3 separate regions of the Homo sapiens genome follow, and regions 1 and 2 are each linked to region 3. The links come from fine-mapping of genetic effects on gene expression. A gene starts in region 3. Each other region holds a variant in brackets. All regions are shown on one strand. Distances are from middle to middle. Region 1 has its middle 100 kb from the start of LINC02367. Region 2 holds the start of LINC02617 (long intergenic non-protein coding RNA 2617). Region 3 holds the start of KLRB1 (killer cell lectin like receptor B1).

What was found. PIP is the estimated chance that this variant, and not a neighbour inherited with it, causes the effect.
Region 1: its variant is fine-mapped to the expression of KLRB1 in testis (GTEx, PIP above 0.99).
Region 2: its variant is fine-mapped to the expression of KLRB1 in monocytes (BLUEPRINT, PIP 0.95).

The regions. Positions count from the first base shown.
Region 1 is chr12:9,463,587-9,471,769 of GRCh38, reverse strand. It overlaps the pseudogene OVOS1P. Among named protein-coding and RNA genes, the nearest start is that of LINC02367, 100 kb to the right of the region's middle. RefSeq lists a silencer at 2,464-2,513. The variant G/A (reference allele first, on the strand shown) is at 5,081.
Region 2 is chr12:10,335,149-10,343,331 of GRCh38, reverse strand. LINC02617 (long intergenic non-protein coding RNA 2617) reads left to right here and starts at 5,040. Exons shown (of 3, transcript NR_159946.1): 1 at 5,040-5,287; 2 at 7,023-7,220. RefSeq lists enhancers at 4,146-4,725, 4,726-5,304. The variant G/A (reference allele first, on the strand shown) is at 3,703.
Region 3 is chr12:9,603,889-9,612,071 of GRCh38, reverse strand. KLRB1 (killer cell lectin like receptor B1) reads left to right here and starts at 4,156. Exons shown (of 6, transcript NM_002258.3): 1 at 4,156-4,317. The coding sequence starts at 4,233.

The DNA.
Region 1 (8,183 bases), 140 kb after region 3:
CTCCAGAACCAGCCTGATCAGTTTCCATACCAGCTCTATGAGTCAGGACCCTGCAGACTTGGGCACGTGACTTCATCTCTAGGCCTTTCTTCATCCGTGTCATGAGGGTAACAGCGCTGATCTTGAACACCATTGTCATTATTGAATAAAAATGCACAAAATGTGCTGAGCTTTGCTGGGCACATAGATGTCCCACAAGACAATTTCATTGCCTTGATTCGGGTGTCTAGGTGCGGGCGGGGGATGATATGGAGGGTGGCAGGTAGGGAGCGTCCTTATAGCTGTAGTCAGGGAAAACTGAAATAGTCAGTTGCTTCTCCGAGAGCAGCCGTGCCACCTCTGAAGCACCAGTAACTGGCAGGGCTGTCTGTCCCCTTTGGGCTGCAACCTGGCTTCAATTCCAACCCTGACATTGTGTGCTTCTGAAGCCTTCTCCTCTTGTTTTGACACCTGAAGTCCCCCTGTATATCCTAGACTTCTCAGTCTACCAGAGCATTCACCTTACTTTCTTCATCCCACCCTGCCTTTGATAATGATGCCTAAGTCCCCGAGACAGGAGGAAGTCTTCCCCAGAAAGGTACTATAGCAGCACTTATACCCATGTTTAATGTCCCAGAAACCTTGTGTTCAAGTAATGCTTTCTCAAGGGTCTTATGTCTTTTCTGTTAGAGCTTCAGCCCCGTTCTTGTGTTCTGTTCTAAGTGAATGAAACGAACATGACGCTGTAGACATTGATGGGTTTGAAGGCCTAAAACGAACAAGTTTTGTTGAACCAAGATTCTTTCTCGTCTTTGTCCTTTTCATGCTAAGGAATTTCCTGTCTCCATTTCTTCTGTTCCCACCCTACTCTACACCCTCATGATTCCCTAACAGGACCACTTTAACAGCCTCCCAACACCCTCTTCCTCTTCTCTATACGATTCTGCTCTTAGCAGCCAGATTCTCTTTAGAACACGCATGCTGGAACATGCCACTCCTTGCTTTAAACCCCTCAGCAGCTCCCTACTGCTCTTAGGGTCTCAGTCTGCTCCCATATTCTCACTCACCCAACTCAGAATGTCCTGACCTCTGAGGCCTCTCACCCTTAGCCTACACCACTTCCTGCCCCTCTGGGAACTGCAGTCACACTGGTACTTTCTATGACACAAAGAGACCCCCACACACACCATGTGGAAGTCTTCTGCCCTTGCCCTGTGTGTTCCTAGGCTGGCTCTCAACTTCGGGTCTGAGCTGGAGCATCACCTTCTCAGAGAAGCATCCCCTGATGGGCCTAAGGGCTCCTCCCCAGTCATTTGGTCTCAGAACTCCCCTCAACTTCCTCCCTTTTACTTAATTTGCATTTAACTGCTGATTTGTCTTTCCCCCACCAGAATGCTAACTTCTCAAGGGTGGTAATCTGTTTTTCTTGTCCTCCCCTGGATCCCCAGCCCCTAGCAGTGCCTGGTAATAGTAAGTCCTCAATATATAGTTGCTGAATGAATTTATGATTACTTTTTGTAACAGTGAAAGATTGCAAAGAATCTAATTATTCAGAAATAGGGTATTTACCAAAACAATTATGATAGAATTAGTCAGATGTGGTGGCTCACACCTATAGTCCCAATGACTCAGGAGGCTGAGGTAGGAGGATCACCTGAGCCCAGAAGGTTGAGGCTGCAGTGAGATATGATCACACCATTATACTTTAGCCTGGGCGACTGGTTGAGGCCCTGTTTTTTTTTAAAAAAAGTTATGGTAGAATCATGTGATTGCCTGTTATGCTGTATAGAGGAATATATTATGGAATGAAAAAAATTACTAGTCCTATTTTGTGAAAAAAAAATCTATCAACATTTGGTTGTTTTTTGTTGTTTGTTTGTTTGTTTGTTTGGTTGCTGTTTTAAAAAAAGACTGCAAGGACAGCTACCAAATATTAGCAGTGTTATCTCTGGGATGAGTGATTTTTCTTCTTTTCCTTAAAATAAATTGTGTATTAAGTATTTCCTACAGTGAAACAAGTATTGCTTTTATAGTGCAAACATGATTCTAAGCAGAGCTGTGCAATGCTGACCTGGCATGGGGTGGGAAGAAGGGGGTTAGGGAGGCGGTGCTTAGGGTCCAGAGTCTGAGTTGGCCTCATTCTGGTTTCAGCTCTGGAAGGAGTGAAGAATGAGTCCCCGGAGCCCATCCAGTCCCTCATGGATGACATACTGAGGGCTCAGGAAGATGCCCCCTTGCAACCTGCCTCAGCTTCCAGGCTGAGTCACCTAAGCAGCTTCTTTCAGAAAGCCTCTTGTGCCACAGGCACACTCAGGAAGAAGTACATCTTCAATTGAACAAGAAATAATATGAATAAAAAATGTAAAGAATAAAAAATGCACTGCCACACTGGTGGGGCAGGAGGGTGAAAGTCGTGCCCCTCACAATAGGTAATGTCTATAAAAGGACAACCGAGGCCAGCACCAAAGTTCACCTGCAGAAGGCGGGTCTGTCTCAACACCAGCTGCCAGTCACTGTGAACCTTTAGAATTGGGGCTGTAGCTTCTTCCAGTTGTTTGCCCAGATGTCAGTGAGACCACTCCATGGCAGACAGGGGGAGCTGTGTGTCAGGGAAGTCCCAGCCACTAGGACAAGCCGCACTCCAGGCAGACGTTTCTGCTCTTGTGCAAAGAACAGCGCAATCCATTCAAGTTCACAGGGGCAGGTGGCACTTGAAAATGTCAGGGTCAACTTGCAGGGCAGAAGTTAGCAGGGAAGTCTTCCTGGGGGAGTGGGAGAGCCCAGCAGAGTTTAGGAGGAGAGAAGGGCGACATCGGGGCAATCCTCTGAGTCTCTCTTTCCTCCTCAGGAACTGTTCAGGAAGACCCTGCAATCTCTCTGCAGGCTCATGGGAGCTCCCAGAACTGAAGCAACATACAGATCCAGGCCACTCTAAGCTCTGCCTGCATTTTCACAGGGCACATTCTTGTGTATATGTGTGTGTGTGTGTTTGGTGCGTGTGTGTCTGTGTGTGTGTTCTCTTCTTAATAAAACCAGCAATCACTGGACTAAGTAGGGCCCACTTTTATCCACTGAGCTCCCCTTACCTTGGTAACATCTGCAAAGACCCTATTTTCAAACAAGGTCGCATTCCGGGTTCTGAGTGGACATGAACTTTTTCAACCCAGTACATCTGGGAACAGAGCAGTCAAGGGTAGAAGAGATCAACCTGAGGATGAGGTTTGGATGCAGAGTTTTGAGAGAAGGGTGATCAGAGCTAGGGTCTAAGCAACATTGGTCTGCTCCCTTGGAGGAGAATTTTCCCTTTTTCCTTCTGCCCTTTAGCCAGTGCTGCGGCCACCTCCTCTCTCATAGCTGGCATTTAAAAGCCAAATGGATGCCACAACCTTCTAATGCATCTAGATATGCAGCAAAAATATTCAAAAAATTCCAGCAAGGTCAAAATAATCTCAGGCCTAGATTTGCCACCAGTGCCCTCTTCTGGGCAGCTTTATTTTATAGTAGTGTCACAAAACACTTGTTTGTCAATATATGTATTTGTGCACTAAGTGTCACCAGAAAATATATTTATGTCTGTTGGTTACAGCCTAAACAGTTTAAGAAACCATGTTTAGATGTTTTCCCAGTCAGGAAAGGCCAAACTAAAAAGGGGTGTGTGTGTGTGTGTGTGTGTGTGTGTGTGTGTGAAAAAGAGAGATGGGGGCCCCCATTCCACTAAGAAGAAGGCCAAACTAAAAAGGGCTGTGTGTGTGTGTGTGTGTGTGTGTGTGTGAAAAAGAGAGATGGGGGCCCCCATTCCACTAAGAAGATGACAGAGGCCGTGCAGGTTTTTTCTCTGTGATATCCCCTCCTCCTACAAATCATGCCCAGAGGAGGGATCTTGAGGACCTGCCCCTGCCTCCCCAGACCCATCTCCACACCCAGGCCATCCTGGGCAGAGGACAGCAGAGCTCACATCTCTGTGGAGAGCAGACTGGGCTCACTGCAGGCCTCTGTGTCATTGTTCATCTTCACTTCATAAGTCTCATTCTGAGACCTCTCCTGACACACCATGGCTATCTGGCTCTCCTGGGAAAAGCACTTACAACATTCAAGATAGAGAAAATCATCAGCAGCTGCCAACCCTCCTCCCCTTCCCTCAGCAAGTAAGGCATCACGCATGCACATATGCACACATGCACAAACACATGAACTTGTGTATATACACACACACAGGCACACACACACATGAACATGCATGCAATTTCTGTGGCCTCATTTTCTTGTGATGGCTGATGAAGGCATGACGCCATGGAAGTGTTAAGATTAGGGAGAGGGTTCCATGTGGGAGGATGTCTGGTGTGGATCCAAGGAGATCTGAGTCCTGACTCCAATTCACTTACCCTCTGGCCCAAGTCACTTAGCCCACCCCATGCCTCAGTTTCTCTTTCTATGAAATAGGAGTGACATATGCCCTGCCTGACTCAGAGGCCTGTTGTGAGTTACAAATAAAGCAACAGATAAGACGGCGCTTTGAGACTGGGAAAAGTCAGCTTTGACCTAACGGTCCTGGGCTGTGCCATAAAGGGCAGGGTGGGCCTGTGAGGAGGCCCACCTGTGAGGGCCTGCCCTCCCACCCCTACCTGCAACAGCTGAGCCTTTGGGCATTAGTTTGGCACAGCTGAGATGTCTGTGGTATCCTGTTTTGATGGTGCCCTTGATTCTGACACCAGCTCCCTGCAGTAAAGGCACAGAAAGGAAACCTCACCTAGGAGGGTTTGCTCTCCCAAGCAGAGGGCAGTGAGCCGGAGTCCCTACTGAGCCTGAATCCTTCCTGAACTCCTGACCTGCCTTTTACCAGAACATGTCTTTCCCTATGGGGACACAGTCCTCTGCTCACTGGGTCCTGTCTTCTTCAGCTCTGAGCCATGAGCTCTTCCTTTTCCTGTTTGTGCTCAGCTCAGTGCCTCTCTCCATCTTTATTCCCAGACCCCAGAAGGCATTAAGGGAAGATCCCAGTCCATCTTCTTGGAGCTGAGAGCTGGATCAGTGCCCCTGGCTTTGAGGCAGGGTAGGGGCAGTTCTCTCTCAGGGAGGCCTGCAGATCGCCACCTGCCCCACG[G/A]TGGGAAGGAAAGATGACAGGTGGGAGCTCCAGGTGGATTGGGAGGGGAGGGAGATGGAGTGGGCTTTGGCAAGGCATGGGGGGATAAGCTTGAGATGCAGAGTGGCAGCAGGCAGGCAACAGCATTTCTGGAGACCACCAGGCACAGGACGTGCTGGCCTGTCCTCAGGACAAGCAATGCCAGGGCCTGAGCTGCCCTTACCCTTCAAGACGAGGCCCGAGAACTGGAATGTGGGCTATGCTTTTCTTCACCAAACTGAAGCTTGGCACCCTGAGTGTTGTTTGTACCAACTGCAGTAGGCAGACAGGGAACCAACGCTTCCTGAGCACTGACTGTGTGCTGTGCACTGTACTGTGTGCTTTCTGTTTGTTTGTTTCATGGAGAGATGTATCTCTGGGGAGAGGGAAATCCCCTGAGAATCCCCCCTCTCTCCAAAGCCCCCGCCACCCCAGGTTCTCTAAAAATCCCTCTCCCCTTATGTCACAGAGAATAAAGCTTCACGGGAAAATGCCCTTAGAAAGGGGGATTTAATTCACTCTGAGATGCTAAAGATGGCCACGGAGACCTCCTTAAGCAGAGGCTTTCAGGAGACCAACAGAGAAGAAGGCAGTGCAGGGACCCAGCGTGTCCTCAGCCTTGGCTAAATAAACCTGTAATTGATTGAAACATGTCGCAGTCACTTTTTGGTTAACAAGGTCAACGGAGGCACAAGCACCAAAGTCCACCTGAAGAAGTTGGGTCTATCTACGAACCACTTGTGAGTCACTGTGAATATTTAGAACTGGGGGCTAAAGCTTATTCCAGTTGTCTGTCTGGATGTCAGTGAGGCCACTCCATAGTAGATTCTCCCACCTTTGGTTTAATGGGATGGACAACTTTGGATTAGGACTAAGGAGGTAGATTTGATCTTGGAAGATACCTTAGGCTTCTTGTCTCTTATCTCCCTAGGAAACTGTTGGCTGTCAGTATCTATACTAGGGGTAAGCCCAAGTGACAGAACAGTTCTGGAAGCATCTCCTTGAGTTTTCAGGAAAGGTTTCACTGACACAAGAAGAGAGTAGGGTGGCAGAGCAGCATCGGGTTTGGTTTTCAATTCCCTTTTCTATCTCCACACGTGTTGGGTGAAATTCACAGGGTTGCCACACTCCCGTGGGTATATTTGGATTACGGATGAGAGCATAAGAAGGTGGGCTGTGGGATACATACAGTGGAGTGCTGCTGACTACAGCCCCCGTCATGTAAGAAAGCACGTCAGATTGCCATAGAACAAGTTATGCTATTGTTGGAATAACTGAAGTTCATTCTAATTTAGTTTTTAAAATCATTCTGAAACTTTCTCCCCGCTACCGCATAGTAGTTGAAGGGTACTCCGTTTTCCCGTTTTCTGTCCTAACCAAGAAACAGAGAGTGCCTCAACTGTCCTGTGACCCCATCAGCTACACAATTTGCCCTGCAGGCTGGAACCCAAGGTTTCGCTTCGAACATTCCCAGACACCTACAAAGGTGTTTAGGTTGTTGCCCCAAACACTGAGAGGAACTGGCCAGGCCCTGAGCCAAATGCCTTAATCTCTCATCAACTCCATTCCCTGATCCTCGTGCTGCAGACCTCGCTAGGTAGAGCACCTCTTTCCCTAACTGCCTATCTGGAGGAAATGGTGAAACCCAGTTTCTACCTAAGTTCTCGTAATAAATTTGAACTGATCACCCTGGCATCTAGTGCTTCTTTCTTTGGGATTCCAACTGGTCCCATCTTGGGATGGCTTGCGGTACTCCCTTGTGGGAACTCCCCTGATGCCAGCAGTGGCACCCCAGATGCCACTGCTAGGGTGACTCCAGCTGTGAATTCACTGGAAAAGAACACAGGTATTCCTGACTAGTTCTTTATGCTCCTTCAAAGGTCAGAGCTCAATATCGTTGCACCTGATTTCTCATCCACAAAATGGTATTTATAACACCTCTGTGGAACTGTCCTCCAATACTCTTCTTCCTTTTTAAAAAACCATGCATTTGGCTGCCTGGAATGGAGAATATGTTTTCCACCCTCCCTTGCAGCTAGGTGTGGCCACGTAGCTAAGTTCTGACCAAGCAGTGGAAGGCAGAGTCCCATATGGCACTTTCAAGAAGTATTCTTAAAGAGCAAGGGCACATGCATTTCTATCCTGTCTGTCTTCTTCGTGACTAGAATGAAACACGATGCCTGGGGCTAAAGAGTGATCTTAAACCATCAGCAGGAAGTGATATATTAAAAGGCAGAAGAGCCAAAAGATAGAAAGAACCTAGATCACTTATGCTAGCAGAGGTATTCATCATTTTGCACAGTTTACCTTCAGACTTTGTTCATAAGGGGGCAAGGGAGTGTGAGTTTTCTATCACAGGCAAACCCAATCCTGAGGGATTGACTTAATCTATCAACGTTGCTGTGAGGATTTAAGGAGATAATATAAAATCCTTAGCAGTTTTTCTGGCATGAAGTCAGAGGGCAACTTTTTTTTTTTCTCAAAAGTAATGAAATATTAAGGCTATTGAAACTTGGTTCTGAGAACACTGAAAGATATGGAAAGACCATAGAACCTGTTTCCACATTGGCCAGAATGGACTGACATTACATCTTTAAAGTTGGTCATAATCAGAATGTTTTTCACTGCTTCTAAATTGTATGCACTATTGGATAAAACTGGAACAGTACATGGCCAGGTGCGGTGGCTCATGCCTGTAATCCCAGCACTCTGGGAGGCCGAGGCGGGCGGATCACGAGGTCAGGAGATCGAGACCATCCTGGCTAACACGGTGAAACCCCGTTTCTACTAAAAATACAAAAAAAAATGAGCCGGGTGTGGTGGCGGGTGCCTGTAGTCCCAGCTACTTGGGAGGCTGAGGCAAAAGAATGGCGTGAACCCAGGAGGCAGAGCTTGCAGTGAGCAGAAATCACGCCACTGCACTCCAGCCTGGGTGACAGAGAGAGACTCTGTCTCAAAAAAAAAAAAAAAAAACTGTAACAGTACTGACTCCATGTTAGAGAAGAGCTTGTTTGCTTGAATACAGTTATTGCTTTTCCTGAGACTGTAGATTATTCATTAAAAACAGCCTCAGAAATACAGGACC
Region 2 (8,183 bases), 730 kb before region 3:
AACACATGTACCTTTAAACATGTGCCCTTTAGGGTATGTATCAATTATACCTCAATAAAGCTGAAAAAAAAAAAAGAGCAAACGCTTTCAATTCACCAGCCACAAAATATTAGAAAATGAAAGTAGATAAATAAGACCATATTCTATAACACCATAAACTATTAAATACCTAAGAAAAAAATCTAACAAGAATTTTGTCAGACATTATTGCTAAAATTGGTGAAGTTTTTCTGTGAAAAAGTAAAGGCAGGCCAGGCGCGGTGGCTCACGCTTGTAATCCCAGCACTTTGAGAGGCCAAGCCAGGCGGATCACGAGGTCAGGAGATCAAGACCATCCTGGCTAACACGGTGAAACCCCGTCTCTACTAAAAAAATACAAAAAATTAGCCAGGCGTGGTGGCGGGCGCCTGTAGTCCCAGCTACTCGGGAGGCTGAGGCAGGAGAATGGCGTGAACCTGGAAGGCAGAGCTTGCAGTGAGCGGAGATCATGCCACTGCACTCCAGCCCAGGCAACAGAGCGAGACCCCGTCTCAAAAAAAAAAAAAAAAAAAAAGTAAAGGCAACCTAAATAAATAGACAGATAATTTTTGTTCATGGATTGGAAGATTCAGCACGGTTAAGGTGTTTGTTCTCTTCTAATACATGTAGAATCTAGAAATATAGCTTCCATACAATTTCAATATAAAATCCAGTCTGTGTGTATGTATGCAAAATACAAGGTAATTTACACACGCAAAAAACTTAGAAAATATATGTATATTATATGTATGCAAATATATATAATTAATAAATGGTAGCCAAAGGCTTAACAGACATTATACAGAAGAGGACATCCAAATGACCAAAAAGTTATAGGTGCCATTAATCATAAGAGAATTCAGATTTAAGCTACAATTATATGCCAATGTATAATATGGCCCAAAATATGTGAAGCTTAAAAAAAAAAAAGATCAACAATAGAAGTGTTGGCAAGGAAGCAGGCAATGTTACTGAAACAGCCATTGCTTACTGCACAGAAAGCAAACCACTGAGACAAGTGTTGCCAGAGAAGAAGGGTTTATTTGGGTGCCGCAGCTGAGGAGATGGGAAGTCAGTCTCAAATTCATCTCCTCAATTGACTAAAATTAGAGGTTTATGTAGCAGGAAAAAAAAAATGTAACTGTATGTGGGAAAATAGGAATTAGGGAGGGGTAAGGAAGAGGAGTTGGTCAACAGGAAGCAGGTGGTTGGTTAGGCAACTATGATGGGTTAGGTGTCTGGCTCTCATAGTCCAGATGTGGTGATCTGGTAAGTTTCAGTTCCTTGATACTTTCTGGGAGGTCTGATGGTTGGTTTCCTAGGAAGGAAACTCAGATTAGACAAATGTAGGTTTCTCAAGTTTTAAGACTGAGAGGGTCAATTTCTATGTTTGTTTAAAAGAAACAATAAACATCAGTTCTGTGGGACAATTTGGCTGGTTTCTGCAACAGAGAGTCATATAAAACCACTGGTAAAATTATACATTTTTCCCAGCACTTTGGAAAACTGTTTGGGATTACCTTCTAGATCTAAATACATGCCTCCACTATGACTTAGAAATTTATTTTTTCAATATGCATGTAAGGGAAATGAGGATACATATCCACTAAAAGCGTACATGTACAAGAAAAATAAAAATGTTTAGAGAAGTTTTATTCATAATATTAAAAAATAGGTAATAACTAAAGTGGCCATCACGAGTAGAACAATAGAAGCAAATTGTTGTATATTCATATAATGGAATTCTACTGGTAATAAAAAGTATCACACATAGGCATGAGCAAAGACTTCATGATGAAGATGTCAAAAGCAATTGTGACAAAACCAAAAATTGACACAAAAAATTGACAAACCTGATTAAACTAAAGAGCTTCTGCACAGCAAAGGAAACTATTATCAGAGTGAACAGATAACCTATGGAATGGGAGAATAGTTTTGCAATCCAACTATCTGACCATCGTCTAATGTCCAGCATCTACACAGAACTTAAACAAATTTACAGGAAAGAAACAACCCCATTAAAAAGTGGGAAAATGATATGAACAGACATTTCTCAAAAGAAGACTTACATGCGGCCAACAAACATATGAAAAAAAGCTCAACATCACTGATCATTAGAAGAATGCAAAGCAAAACCACAAGATATTATCTCACACCAGTCAGAATGGCTATTGTTAAAAAGTCAAAAAAACAACAGATGCTGGCAAAGTTGTGGAGAAAAAGAAACGCTTTTACACTGTTGATGGGAATGTAAATTAGTTCAACCATTGTGGAAAACAGTGTAGTGACTCCTCAAAGACCTAGAGGCAGAAATACCATTTGACCCAGAAATCCCATTACTGGGTATATATCCAAAGGAATGTAAATCATTCCATTATGAAGATACATGCACATGTAAGTTCACTGAAATACTATTCACAATAACAGACATATGGAATCAACCTAAATGCCCATCAGTGAGAGACTGGATAAAGAAAATGTGGTACATATATACCATGGAATACAATGCAGCCATAAAAAGAAACAAGATCGTGTCCTTCGCAGGGACATGATGGAGCTGGAGGCCATTATCCTCGGCAAACTAATGCAGGAACAGAAAACAAAACACCGCATGGTCTCACTTATAAGACGGAGCTGAATGATGAGAACACATGGACACATTGTGGGGAACAACATACCTTGGGGCCTGTCAGAGGGTGGGTGGGGAGGAGGGAGAGTATCAGGGAAAATGTCTAAGGGATTCTGGCCTTGATACCTAGGTGATGGGATGATCTGTGCAGCAAACCACCATGGCACATGTTTGCCTCTGTAGCAAACATGCACATTCTGCACATGTACCCCTGACTTTAAAATAAAATTTAAAAAAGTATCACAGACTTTAAGCTGAGAGAAAGGATGCAGATGCAAAGAATATGTACTTCATTATTTCACTTACATGATGTCCACAAAGAGGCAAAAATGATTTACAAAGTTAGACATCAGAATAGTGGTTTTCTTAAGGCTAAAAGAATAATTATTAATAGACACGAGGCATGAAGGAGGCTTTGTTGGTTCTAGGAACAGTCTGTATCTCAAACTGGTTAATAACTGTATGGGTGTATGCATGAATAAAAAATTCATCAAGTACTTATAATTTGTGCACTTTATTTGTGTTATCTCTCAAGTTTAAAAAATGAGGAAATTCGTAAGAGGGGAAGAGTTGATAGTCCTGATGTGTATGAATTGACTTCTAAGCTCTAATTAGAATAAAAAGCAGTTCCATAAATTTAAAAATGGCAGAAATGGTATACTATTTAGGAGCATGTAGATGTAGCAGGATTTTATTTTGGAAGAATAAACTTACACTTATTTGTGTGTGTTTTCCTTATGCCTCTATGCTTCCAATACATTGCTGTTCACTCAGCTAGATTATTCCATGTTAATTTTCTAATTTCATAGTAAAAGCATAAAAGAAAAAGAAAAAAGAAAAAGGTCTCTACTCAGAGAAATATCATGCCACAAACAAAAAGGATTTTTTTAAAGAAAATCTTGTATATAAAAGTGGTCTTCCCCTTCCCAAAGACTAGAAATAAATTCCCAGGAATGCAGGCAAGGGTCAGGGAGGAAGTATCGAGAAAAAGAGAGAAATCAGAAAGGCCTCTGTTAAGTATGACTAATAGGAAGGGGCCAAGCTGGCCGGGCGTG[G/A]TGGCTCATGCTTGTAATTCCAGCACTTTGGGAAGCCAAGGCGGGTGGATCACTTGAGATCAAGAGCCTGGCCAACATGATAAAACCCCATCTCTAATAAAAATACAAAAATTAGGTGGCCATGATGGCACTTGCCTGTAATCCCACCTACTCAGGAGGCTGAGGCTTGAGAATCTCTTGAACCCGAGGTCGGAGGTTGCAGTGAGCTGAGATCGTGCCACTGCACTCCAGCCTGGGTAGCAGAGCAAGCAAGCAAGCAGCCTGGGTGTCAAAAAAAAAAAAAAAAGAAGGAAGGGGCCAAACCATGAAAAAAAAAAGCTGCTCTGCCTTGGGCCACCACTAACCTCTACTCAAGCCAGCATCTTCTGCTATCAGTGCCCTGAAGTGATGTGAGAGCTGAAGGGGCAACAGGAACCTCCAAAGAAGCACAGCTCAGGCTCTAGTTGAGTGAGAAAAACGTGCTCCTTCTTAGGGGAAGGCAGCTTCTGATGTGGACTTCCTTTTGACAGCAGACACCACCATCCTATTTGAGACCATCTGGATCACCACTCCCCATACAACTGTTCATAAGACCGCAAAAAGGCAAATGGATCTCTGGACATCTGATAGGGTGGTGATGTGAAATGGATCACCCTCACCTTTACCTATACTTTGGTGTGGTCAAATATAGAATGAGAACTCTGGTTCTATCACAGAAAACCTCTGGAGCAAATGAAATCTCAAGAGAGAAGGATGGGGAGATGGGACAGGTGGGACAGATTTTGATGATAAGTTCTTTAGTATTTAGGGATATATTTTAATGTTAAGCATTATAAGTACCTCATTTTTATAAGGAGTGTATTTTAAAATTTAAAGTATATTGCTCTGGAAACAGTTAAGCCAAAACTTTGCATATATGCGAGAAATATAGTGCATAAACATGCTAAGTCAGTGTTCAAACATTTTGGCTGATATTTTCTAATTTGCATCTTTCATCATATAACTTGTGTCAGGCCTCTGAGCCTAAGCCAAGCCATCGCATCCCCTGTGACTTGCACATATACGCCCAGATGGCCTGAAGCAACTGAAGAATCACAAAAGAAGTGAATATGCCCTGCCCCACCTTAACTGATGACATTCCACCACAAAAGAAGTGTAAATGGCCGGTCCTTGCCTTAACTGATGACATTACCTTGTGAAAGTCCTTTTCCTGGCTCATCTTGGCTCAAAAATCACCCCCACTGAGCACCTTGCGACCCCCCCACTCCTGCCCGCCAGAGAACAAACCCCCTTTGACTGCAATTTTCCTTTACCTACCCAAATCCTATAAAACGGCCCCACCCTTATCTCCCTTTCCTGACTCTTTTCGGACTCAGCCCGCCTGCACCCAGGTGAAATAAACAGCCATGTTGCTCACACAAAGCCTGTTTGGTGGTCTCTTCATACAGACGCGCATGAAATTTGGTGCCGTGACTCGGATCGGGGGACCTCCCTTGGGAGATCAATCCCCTGTACTCCTGTTCTTTGCTCCGTGAGAAAGATCCACCTATGACCTCAGGTCCTCAGACCGACCAGCCCAAGGAACATCTCACCAATTTTAAATCAGGTAAGTGTCCTCTTCTTACTCTCTTCTCCAACCTCTCTCACTGTCCCTCAACCACTTTCTCCTTTCCACTCTTCAATCTCTCCCTTTTCTTAATTTCTATTCCTTTCATTTTCTGGGAAAGACAAAGGAGACACATTTTATCCATGGACCCAAAACTCCTGCGCCGGTCACGGACTGGGAAGGCAGCCTTCCCTTGGTGTTTAATCATTGCAGGGACACCTCTCTGATTATACACTCACGTTTCAAGGGTGTCAGACCACACAGGGACACCTGCCTTGGTCCTTCACCCTTAGCAGCAAGTCCCGCTTTTCTGGGGAAGGGGCAAGTACCCCAACCCCTTCTCTCCTTGTCTCTACCCCTTCTCTGCTTTTCTGGGACAGGGGCAAGTACCCCTCAACCCCTTCTCCTTCACCCTTAGCGGCAAGTCCCGCTTTTCTATGGGGTAAGAACCCCCAATCCCTTATTTCCGTGCCCCAACCTCTTATATCTCTGCACCCCAATCCCTTATTTCCGCACCCCAACCTCTTATCTCTGTGCCCCAACCCCTTTTCCCACTTTTCTGGAAGGTAAGAACCCCCGAACCCCTTCCCTCCATTTCTCTACTCTCTCTTTTCTCTAGGCTTGCTTCCTTCACTATGGGCAACCTTCCACCCTCCATTCCTCCTTCTACTCCCTTGGCCTGTGTTCTCAAAAACTTAAAACCTCTTCAACTCACACCTGACCTAAAACCTAAATGCCTTATTTTCTTCTGCAATGCCGCTTGACCCCAATACAAACTCGACAGTAGTTCCAAATAGCCAGAAAATGGCACTTTGAATTTTTCCATCCTGCAAAATCTAAATAATTCTTGTCGTAAAATAGGCAAACGGTCTGAGATGCCTGACATCCAGGCATTCTTTTACACATCAGTCCCTCCCTAGTCTCTGTGCCCAGTGCAACTCGTCCCAAATCTTCCTTCTTTCCCTCCCGCCTGTCCCGTCAGTACCAACCCCAAGCGTCGCTGAGTCTTTCTAATCTTCCTTTTCTACAGACCCATCTGACCTCTCCCCTCCTCCCCAGGCTGCTCCTCGCCAGGCTGAGCTAGGTCCCAATTCTTCCTCAGCCTCTGCTCCTCCACCCTATAATCCTTTTATCACCTCCCCTCCTCACACCTGGTCCGGCTTACAGTTTCTTTCCTTGACTAGCCCTCCCCCACCTGCCCAGCAATTTACTCTTAAAAAGGTTCCTGGAGCTAAAGACATAATCAAGGTTAACGCTCCTTTTTCTTTCTCCCAAATCAGAAGTGTTTAGGCTCTTTTTCATCAAATATAAAAATCCAGCCCAGTTCATGGCTCGTTCGGCAGCAACCCTGGGACACTTTACAGCCCTAGACCCTAAAAGGTCAAAAGGCCGTCTTATTCTCAATATACATTTTATTACCCAATCTGCTCCTGACATTAAATAAAACTCCAAAAATTGGAATCTGGCCCTCAAACCCCACAACAGGACTTCATTAACCTCACCTTCAAGGTGTACAATAACAGAAAAAAGTTGCAATTCTTTGCCTCCACTGTGAGACAAACCCCAGCCACATCTCCAGCACACAAGAACTTCCAAACGTCTGAAACGCAGCAGCCAGGCATTCCTCCAGAACCTCCTCCCCCAGGAGCTTGCTACACATGCTGGAAATCTGGCCACTGGGCCAAGGAATGCCTGCAGCCTGGGATTCCTCCTAAGCCACGTCCCATCTGTGTAGGACACCACTGAAAATCGGACTGTTCAACTCACCTGGCAGCCACTCCCAGAGCCCCTGGAACTCTGGCCCAAGGCTCTCTGACTGACTCCTTCCCAGATTTTCTCAGCTTAGCAGCTGAAGACTGACGCTGCCGGATCGCCTCGGAAGCCCCCTAGACCATCACGGACGCCGAGCTTCCGGTAACTCTCACAGTGGAAGGTAAGCCCGTCCCCTTCTTAATCAATACAGAGGTTACCCACTCCACATTACCTTCTTTTCAAGGGCCTGTTTCCCTTGCCTCCATAACTGTTGTAAGTACTGATGGCCAGGCTTCTAAACCTCTTAAAACTCCCCAACTCTGGTGCCAACTTAGACAATACTCTTTCAAGCACTCCTTTTTAGTTATCCCCACCTGCCCAGTTCCCTTATTAGGCTGAGACACTTTAACTAAATTATCTGCTTCCCTGACTACTCCTGGATTACAGCTATATCTCATTGCCGCCCTTCTTCCCAATCCAAAGCCTCCTTTGCGTCCTCCTCTTGTATCCCCCCACCTTAACCCACAAGTATAAGATACCTCTACTCCCTCCTTGGTGACCGATCATGCACCCCTTACCATCTCATTAAAACCTAATCACCCTTACCCCACTCAACGCCAATATCCCATCCCGCAGCACGCTTTAAAAAGATTAAAGCCTGTTATCACTCGCCTGCTACAGCATAGCCTTTTAAAGCCTATAAACTCTCCTTACAATTCCCCCATTTTACCTGTCCTAAAACCAGACAAGCCTTACAAGTTAGTTCAGGATCTGCGCCTTAGCAACCAAATTGTTTTGCCTATCCACCCTGCAGTGCCCAACCCGTACACTCTTTTGTCCTCAATACCTTCCTCCACAACTCACTGTTCCGTGCTTGATCTTAAAGATGCTTTTTTCACTATTCCCCTGCACCTCTCGTCCCAGCCTCTCTTCGCTTTCACTTAGACTGACCCTGACACCCATTAGGCTCAGCAAATTACCTAGGCTGTACTGCTGCAAGGCTTAGTAGACAGCCCCCATTACTTCAGTCAAGCCCAAATTTCATCCTCATCTGTTACCTATCTCGGCATAATTCTCATAAAAACACACGTGCTCTCCCAGCTGATTGTGTCCCATTAATCTCCCAAACTTCAATCCCTTACAA
Region 3 (8,183 bases):
ACCTGACCTTTCTCTCTGGCTGCCCTTAACATTTTTTCCTTCATTTCAACTTTGATGAATCTGAAAATTATGTGTCTTAGAGTTGCTCTTCTTGACGATTATCTTTGTGGTATTCTCTGTATTTCCTGAATTTGAATGTTGGCCTGCCTTGCTATGTTGGGGAAGTTCTGGATAATATCCTGAAGAGTGTTTTCCAACTTGGTTCCATTCTTCCCATCACTTTCAGGTACACCAGTCAGACATAGATTTGGTCTTTTCACATAGTCCCACATTTCTTGGAGGCTTCATTCATTTCTTTTTACTCTTTTTTCTCTAAACTTCTCTTCTGGCTTCATTTCATTCATTTGATCTTCAATCCCTGACACCCTTTCTTCCACTTGATCAAATTGGCTACTGAATCTTGTGCATGCATCATGTAGTTCTCGTGCCATGGTTTTCAGCTCCATCAGGTCGTTTAAGGTCTTCTCTACACTGTTTATTCTAGTTAGCCATTTGTCTAATCTTTTTTCAAGGTTTTTAGCTTCTTTGCGATGGGTTCGAACTCCTCCTTTAGCTCGGAGAAGTTTGTTATTACCAATCGCCTGAAGCCATCTTCTCTCAACTCATCAAAGTCATTCTCCATGCAGCTTTGTTCTGTTGCTGGTGAGGAGCTGCATTCCTTTTGAGGAGAAGAGGCACTCTGATTTTTAGAATTTTTGGCTTTTCTGCTCTGGTTTCTCCCCATCTTTGTGATTTTATCTACCATTGGTCTTTGATGATGGTGACACACAGATGGTGTTTTGGTTTGGATGTCCTTTCTGTTTGTTCGTTTTCCTTCTTACAGTCAGGACCCTCAGCTGCAGGTCTGCTGGAGGCTGCTGGAGGTGCACTCCAGTCCCTGTTTGCCTGGGTATCACCAGTGGAGACTGCAGAACAGCAAATATTGCAGTACGGCAAATGTTGCTGCCTGATCCTTCCTCTGGAAGCTTCATCTCAGAGGGACACCTGGCTGTATGAGGTGTCAGTCAGCTCCTACTGGGAGGTGTCTCCCAGTTAGGCTACTCGGGCTCAGGGACCCACTAGAGGAGGCAGTCTGTCTGTTCTCAGATCTCAAACTCCATGCTCAGAGAACCACTACTCTCTCCCACGCTGTCAGACAGGGATGTTTAAGTCTGCAGAAGTTTCTTCTGCATTTTGTTCAGCTATGCCCTGCCCTCAGAGGTGGAGTCGACAGAGGCAGGCAGGCCTCCTTGAGCTGCAGTGGGCTCCACCCAGTTTGAGCTTCCTGGCAGCTTTGTTTACCTGCTCAAGCCTCAGCAATGGTGGATGCCCCTCCCGTAGCCTCGCTGCCACCTTGCAGTTTGATCTCAGACTGATGTGCTAGCAGTGAGCAAGGCTCTGTGGGCATGGGACCCTCCGAGCCAGGCATGGGATATAATCTCCTGGTGTGCCATTTGCTAAGACCATTGGAAAAGTGCAGTATTAGGGTGGGAGTGTCCTGATTTTCCAGGTACCGTCTGTCATAGCTTCCCTTGGCTAGGAAAGGGAATTCCCCAATCCCTTGCGCTTCCTTGGTGAGGCAATGCCCCACCCTGCACCATGGGCTGTCCCCACTGTCTGCCAAGCCCCAGTGAGATGAACCCAGTACCTCAGTTGGAAATGCAGAAATCACCAATCTTCTGTGTCGCTCACGCTGGGAGCTATAGACTGGAGCTGTTCCTATTTGGCCATCTTGGAACCCAATCCACCTAAGGTCTTGCTCTAAGGTTCTATGCCTGAAAATCTTTGAAAGAGGTGAAGGACCTCTTCAAGGAGAAATACAAACCACTGCTCAATGAAATAAAAGAGGACACAAATAAATGGAAGATCATTCTATGCTTACGGATAGGAAGAATCAGTATTGTGAATATGGCCATACTGCCCAAGGTAATTTATAGATTCAATGCCATCCCCATCAAGCTACCAATGACTTTCTTCACAGAATTGGAAAAAACTACTTTAAAGTTCATATGGAACCAAAAAAGGTCCCACATTGCCAAGACAAACCTAAGTCAAAAGAACAAAGCTGGAGGCATCACGCTACCTGACTTCAAACTATACTCCAAGGCAACAGCAACCAAAACAACATGGTACTGGTACCAAAACAGAGATATAGACCAATGGAACAGAACAGAGCCCCCGGAAATAATACCACATATCTACAACCATCTGATCTTTGACAAATCTGACAAAAACGAGAAATGGGGAAAGGATTCCCTATTTAATAAATGGTGCTGGGAAAACTGGCTAGCCATATATAGAAAGCTGAAACTGGATCCCTTCCTTACACCTTATAAAAAATTAATTCAAGATGGATTAAAAACTTAAATGTTAGATCTAAAACCATAAAAACCCTAGAAGAAAACCTAGGCAATACCATTCAGGCAACAGGCATGGGAAGGACTTCATGACTAAAACACCAATAACAATGGCAACAAAAGCCAAAATTGACCAATGGGATCTAACTAAATTAAAGAGCTTCTGCACAGCAAAAGAAACTACCATCAGAGTGAACAGACAACCTACAGAATGGGAGAAAATTTTTACAATCTACCCATCTGACAAACGGCTAATATCCAGAATCTACAAAGAACTTACATAAATTTACAAGAAAAAATCAACCAACCCCATCAAAAAATGGGCAAAGGATATGAACAGACACTTCTCAAAAGAAAACATTTATGCAGGCAACAGACACATGAAAAAATGCTCATCATCACTGGCCATCAGAGAAATGCAAATCTAAACCACAATGAGATACCATCTCACACCAGTTAGAATGACAGTCATTAAAAAGTCAGGAAAAAACAGGTGCTGGAGAGGATGTGGAGAAATAGGAACACTTTTACACTGTTGGTGGGACTCTAAACTAGTTCAACCATTGTGGAAGACAGTGTGGCGATTCCTCGAGGGACTAGAACTAGAATTTGACCCAGCCATCTCATTACTGGGTATATACCCAAAGGATTATAAATCACGCTGCTATAAAGACACATGCACACATATGTTTATTGTGGCACTATTCACAATAGCAAAGACTCGTGAACCATCCCAAATGTCTATCAATGATAGACTGGATTAAGAATATATGGCACATATGCACCATGGAATAGTATGCAGCCATAAAAAAGGATGAGTTCATGTCCTTTGTAGGGACATGGATGAAGCTGGAAACCATCATTCTGAGCAAACTATTGCAAGGACAGAAAACCAAACACCGCATGTTCTCACTCATAGGTTGGAATTGAACAATGAGAATATTTGGACACAGGGAGGGGAACACCACACACCGGGGCCTGTCGTGGGGTGGGGGGAGGGGGGAGGGATAGCATTAGGAGATATACCTAATGTAAATGACAAGTTAACGGGTGCAGCACACCAACATGGCACATGTATACATATGTAACAAACCTGTACATTGTGAACTTAAAGTATAATAATAATAAAAAAAGGTAAAAAAAAAAAAGTAGACACATACTATAATCACCTTGAAAAAAAAAGAAAGTCTTTCAAAGAGATAAAAAATTCCATATACTCCACTTCCTACAATTCTGGCAGTTTCCAAATACTTTTACTTATGTGAAAATGCTATCATATCCAAGAGTGCCTTTAGAGCTAAGCTAACAGTAGGCTACTGATCTTTAGCACATTGCTTTTTCTGTTGTGTTATTCAGGGGGCTTTCTCACATTTATGTTTCCATTTTTCACATTTCACAACTTTCTTTGGAGCACAGATATTTCAGGAAGATTTTAGAGCCTTTGAATAGCATTATGGACTTTTTTGCATTAATTTTTACTTTTACAAAATTGTGCTAAATATTATTTCTGTTAATTAGTGAGTTTTGTTGGGGGCCCCTTAAATTGGAACCCCAGGCTATGCCTCATTTGCTTCACTCTGGTCCTGGCCCTGAGAGAGGAACACAAAAGGGATGGTTAGAAAAACAAGAACAAATGAGCCTCCCAGAATTTTCTCAAACAACAGGCCAGTTAATTAAGGAAAGTAGATATTACATAGCTAGGTATAATGAACATGCAGTCAGTGGATTGTCTCAGTAATTTATGGAGATAACCACCAACAAAAAGTGTATGTGGGTGGGGACAAAAGAGAGACAACAAAGTACTGCAGGCAGAAAGCTTCCTTTTGCTGATTTTGCCTCACAGAATTGAGAGTTTGTTCTTACACACAAGTTTAATGCCACCTTCCTCTGTCTGCCATGGACCAACAAGCAATATATGCTGAGTTAAACTTACCCACAGACTCAGGCCCAGAAAGTTCTTCACCTTCATCTCTTCCTCGGGGTAAGTGGCTTTAATTTTCCTTTCGGCATTTGTATGTCTTCCAGAATTAGATCTTCCTGTTACATTTATGGCTTTAAATCATTGCTTTAAAGATGAGCAGTAGTTTTATATTAATGTTTAACGGGTGTTGCATGGCTTGCCTGTAGATAATCACAACTTTGGGAAAAAAAATTTAAACCTCATACATTTATTTTTTTCAATCAAGTTAGCATGAAAAGCAAACATCACTTGTCTTACTGAGCCTTGGTTAAAAGACTCTGAACACTTTAGGCTACCCTGGGCACACTGCCTATTGGTTACCCCTGCTCTACAGGGATGGAAAGAAGGAAGAAAGAAAGAAAGAAAGAAAAGAAAGAAAGAAAGAAAGAAAGAAAGAAAGAAAGAAAGAAAGAAAGAAAGGAAGAAAGAAAGAAAGAAAGGAAAGAAAGAGAAAGAAAAGAAGAAAGAAAGAAAGGAGAGAAAGAAAAAGAAAGAGAGAGAAAGGAAAGGAAAGAAAGAAAAAGAGAAGGAGGAAGGAAGGAAGGATGGAAGGAAGGAAGGAAAAATATTTTACATGTATGAACTAAGGAATATTTAAGACACATTGCAAACTTGCTGTAATAACAACCTACGTTATTCCAAATTCCTCTACAAAATATCAATACTATGATTAAGTCCCAGTGCATTTTCATCCATAATATTCCTTTCAGAATACAACGTGTAGGCCAGTTGCAGTGGCTCATGCCTGTAATCCCAACACTTTGGTAGGCTAAGGTGATTTGCTTGAGTCCAGGAGTTTAAGGCCAGCCTGGGCAATGTGGCAAAACCTCATCTCTACAAACAATACAAAAAAATAGCCAAGTGTGGGGCACGTGCCTGTGGTCCTAGCTACTCGGGAGGCTGAGGTGAGAGGATTGCTTGAGCCCAAGAGATCAAGGCTGCAGTGAGCTGTAATTGTGCCACTGTACTCCAGCCTGGGTGACACAGCAAGACTATCTCAAAAAAAAAAAAAAAATATATATATATATATATATATATATACTTTTTATACATATATTTTATATATTTTATATATATATATATACTTTTTATACATATATTTTATATATTTTATATATATATATATAAAGTGTAGGCTTAATGAGTAACATACTTCACTCTCTCAAGAGAGGGGAACACTTTCTGGAAAAAAAATCATATTCAAGATCAAAGATTTGAATATCATTACTACCTGATAGTTTCTAGTTTGAAAAGTATCACAGCTTAGAAAGAGACAAGCCACAAAAATACTCGAGCATATCAGTAACGAACCTACTTACCATTTGTTGAAACTGGCACTTTCCTGTGTCTCTGAAGAGTTAGCATTCTGAGTGAAAGAAGCGGGGAACACCAATGTGAGGTAACACATGATGGATAGCATGGCCTGTGGATGGATGGGAAGAAACTAGAAACTGAGGCAGAAAATCAGCATGAAATTATTATGACACATTATTATTTTCTGATATCTAACTGAATTTACTATCATTGATAATATTACAATTGTTTACCAATCTGATATTCATTCCATGTCATGCCAAGCATTTGACTTGTGCTGTTTTAAGACTGTTTAAGTTTTAAACTATTGAATTCTCAAAGTTTTAAGTCAAGAAGAAAGTCTTAGAGCCGTCAATTAAGTTTCAGTATAATTTTCACATAAGAGTAGAGGAAATCAGAGGGTTCTAATAACTATAGGGAGGATTTGGTTGAGTAACATTTTTTTTTAAAGAAAAGAGTAAGTCTTTCTTTTCCTCTATTCATATCTAGCAAAAGGTGGAAAGTGGGCTTTTGTCAGAAAATGAATATAGAGGTAGTGAGACTCTTCCCAAATGTTGCTATGATCCCAAACCAATGGATGCAGAAATTTTTTCTACTTGGATTGTAATAATTATCCTATAAAATGTCATTCTGAGAGTAAACCTGAAGAAAAAATAAGAGTAGAATAAAGCCAGAGCAAAATATGTGACTATAGAACACTGGTCTGATATTGAATGACAGTAAAACCACTATTGGTCTCTGGCTAAACTGCTGAGGCTGTGGTCACTCTGTAGCAAGCACGGTGATTGTGTCTAAGGCAGTCAACAAAACCAGAAGGAGAGATGTGAGTGATAACCGATCTTGCTTATGGCCAAATGGCCAAGGGTTTGGTCTGTTAGAAAAGTGGATAAGGTGTTTGCAAAAATGCCCCTAGAGTTTATTCATTCATTAAAAAATAAGCTCCTACTCTGCACCAGGCATGCTGTGAATACAGCAGTGAACAAAATAGAGAAAATTATTTTCCTTCATAGAGTTTATAGTAAAATAGAGGCACACTTGTGGAAGACAGTATGGCGATTCCTTAAGGATCTAGAGCTAGAAATACCATTTGACCCAGTGATCCCACTACTGGGTATATACTCAAAGGATAATAAATCATGCTGCTATAAAGACACATGCACACGTATGTTTATTGCGGCAGCATTCACAATAGCAAAGACTTGGAACCAACCCAAATGTCCATCATTGATAGACTGGATTGAGAAAATGTGGCACATATACACCATGGAATACTGTGCAGCCATAAAAAAGGATGATTTCATGTCCTTTGTAGGGACATGGATGAGGCTGGAAACCATCATTCTGAGCAAACTATCACAAGGACAGAAAGCCAAACACCGCATATTCTCACTCATAGTGGGAATTGAACAATGAGAACACATGGACACAGGGCAGGGAACATCACACACCAGGGCCTGTTGTGGGGTGGGGGTAGGGAGAAGGGATAGCACTAGGAGAAATACCTAATGTAAATGACGAGTTAACGGGTGCAACAAACCAACATGGCACATGTATACATATGTAACAAACCTGCACATTGTGCCCATGTACCCTAGAACTTAAAGTATAATAAAAAATAAAAATTAAAAAAATGGAGGCACACCATCAATAAAATAAACAAATAACTAAGTCAGTATAAAAGATGAGACGGTGTTAATGTTATTGAGAAAGATTTGAATATAGGATTTAACTTTCGGGGAGGGTAGCATATCAAACAGAATAATCAAGGAAGGCCTCCCTGAGAAGATGACATTGAGTCAAAACCTGACAGAAGTGAGGGACAAAGACATAAGCCCCTGAGAGAGAAGCCTTCTAGGAAGGTGACCAACAAGTGCAAACACATCGAAATGAAAACACGCCTGTGGTATTGTAGGAGGCATCTGCGTGGAGAGTGAGCGTATGGAGGCCAGATGGGGTGAGGGCAAAATGTGAAACCACTATTGGACTCTGGCTAAACTGTTGAGGCTATGGTCACTCTGTAGCATGGTGATTGTGTCTAAGGCAGTCAACAAAACCAGAGAGATGTGAGTGATAACATCCAACAGAAGTGGGCGCCAGCTTAAATAGGGACATATGAGCCATTCTACAGACTCAGATTTGCCTGATGAAAAGCCATTGGAAGGTTTAGAATAATGAAATGAGATGATTTCACATACTTTTTAAACTCAAATGGAGAACAGCCATAGGTAGGTATTTCCAGATAGCTAACGTCCGCCGGACCCCTGTAGTGATTCATTGTAACTTCATTAATTCTAATGTCACGTGGTGCCACAGAAACACAGTACAGGAGTACATTCCTCCCAGACACAGTACACTCCACTCAACTCCTTACATTTTAGCATGAATGAATAACGATTTTTAAAAGTCACCAAGTTGCCTTTTACCTATAGTTAAAAAAAAAAAACAACTTTTAGAAAAAAAGAACTGCTGTTCATTGAACAGTTACCATGTGCCAGACACTGTGCCCAGCATTTAGAAGAATTGTTTCATATAATCCTCTCCAAAATATTATGACATAGATAATATTCCACATT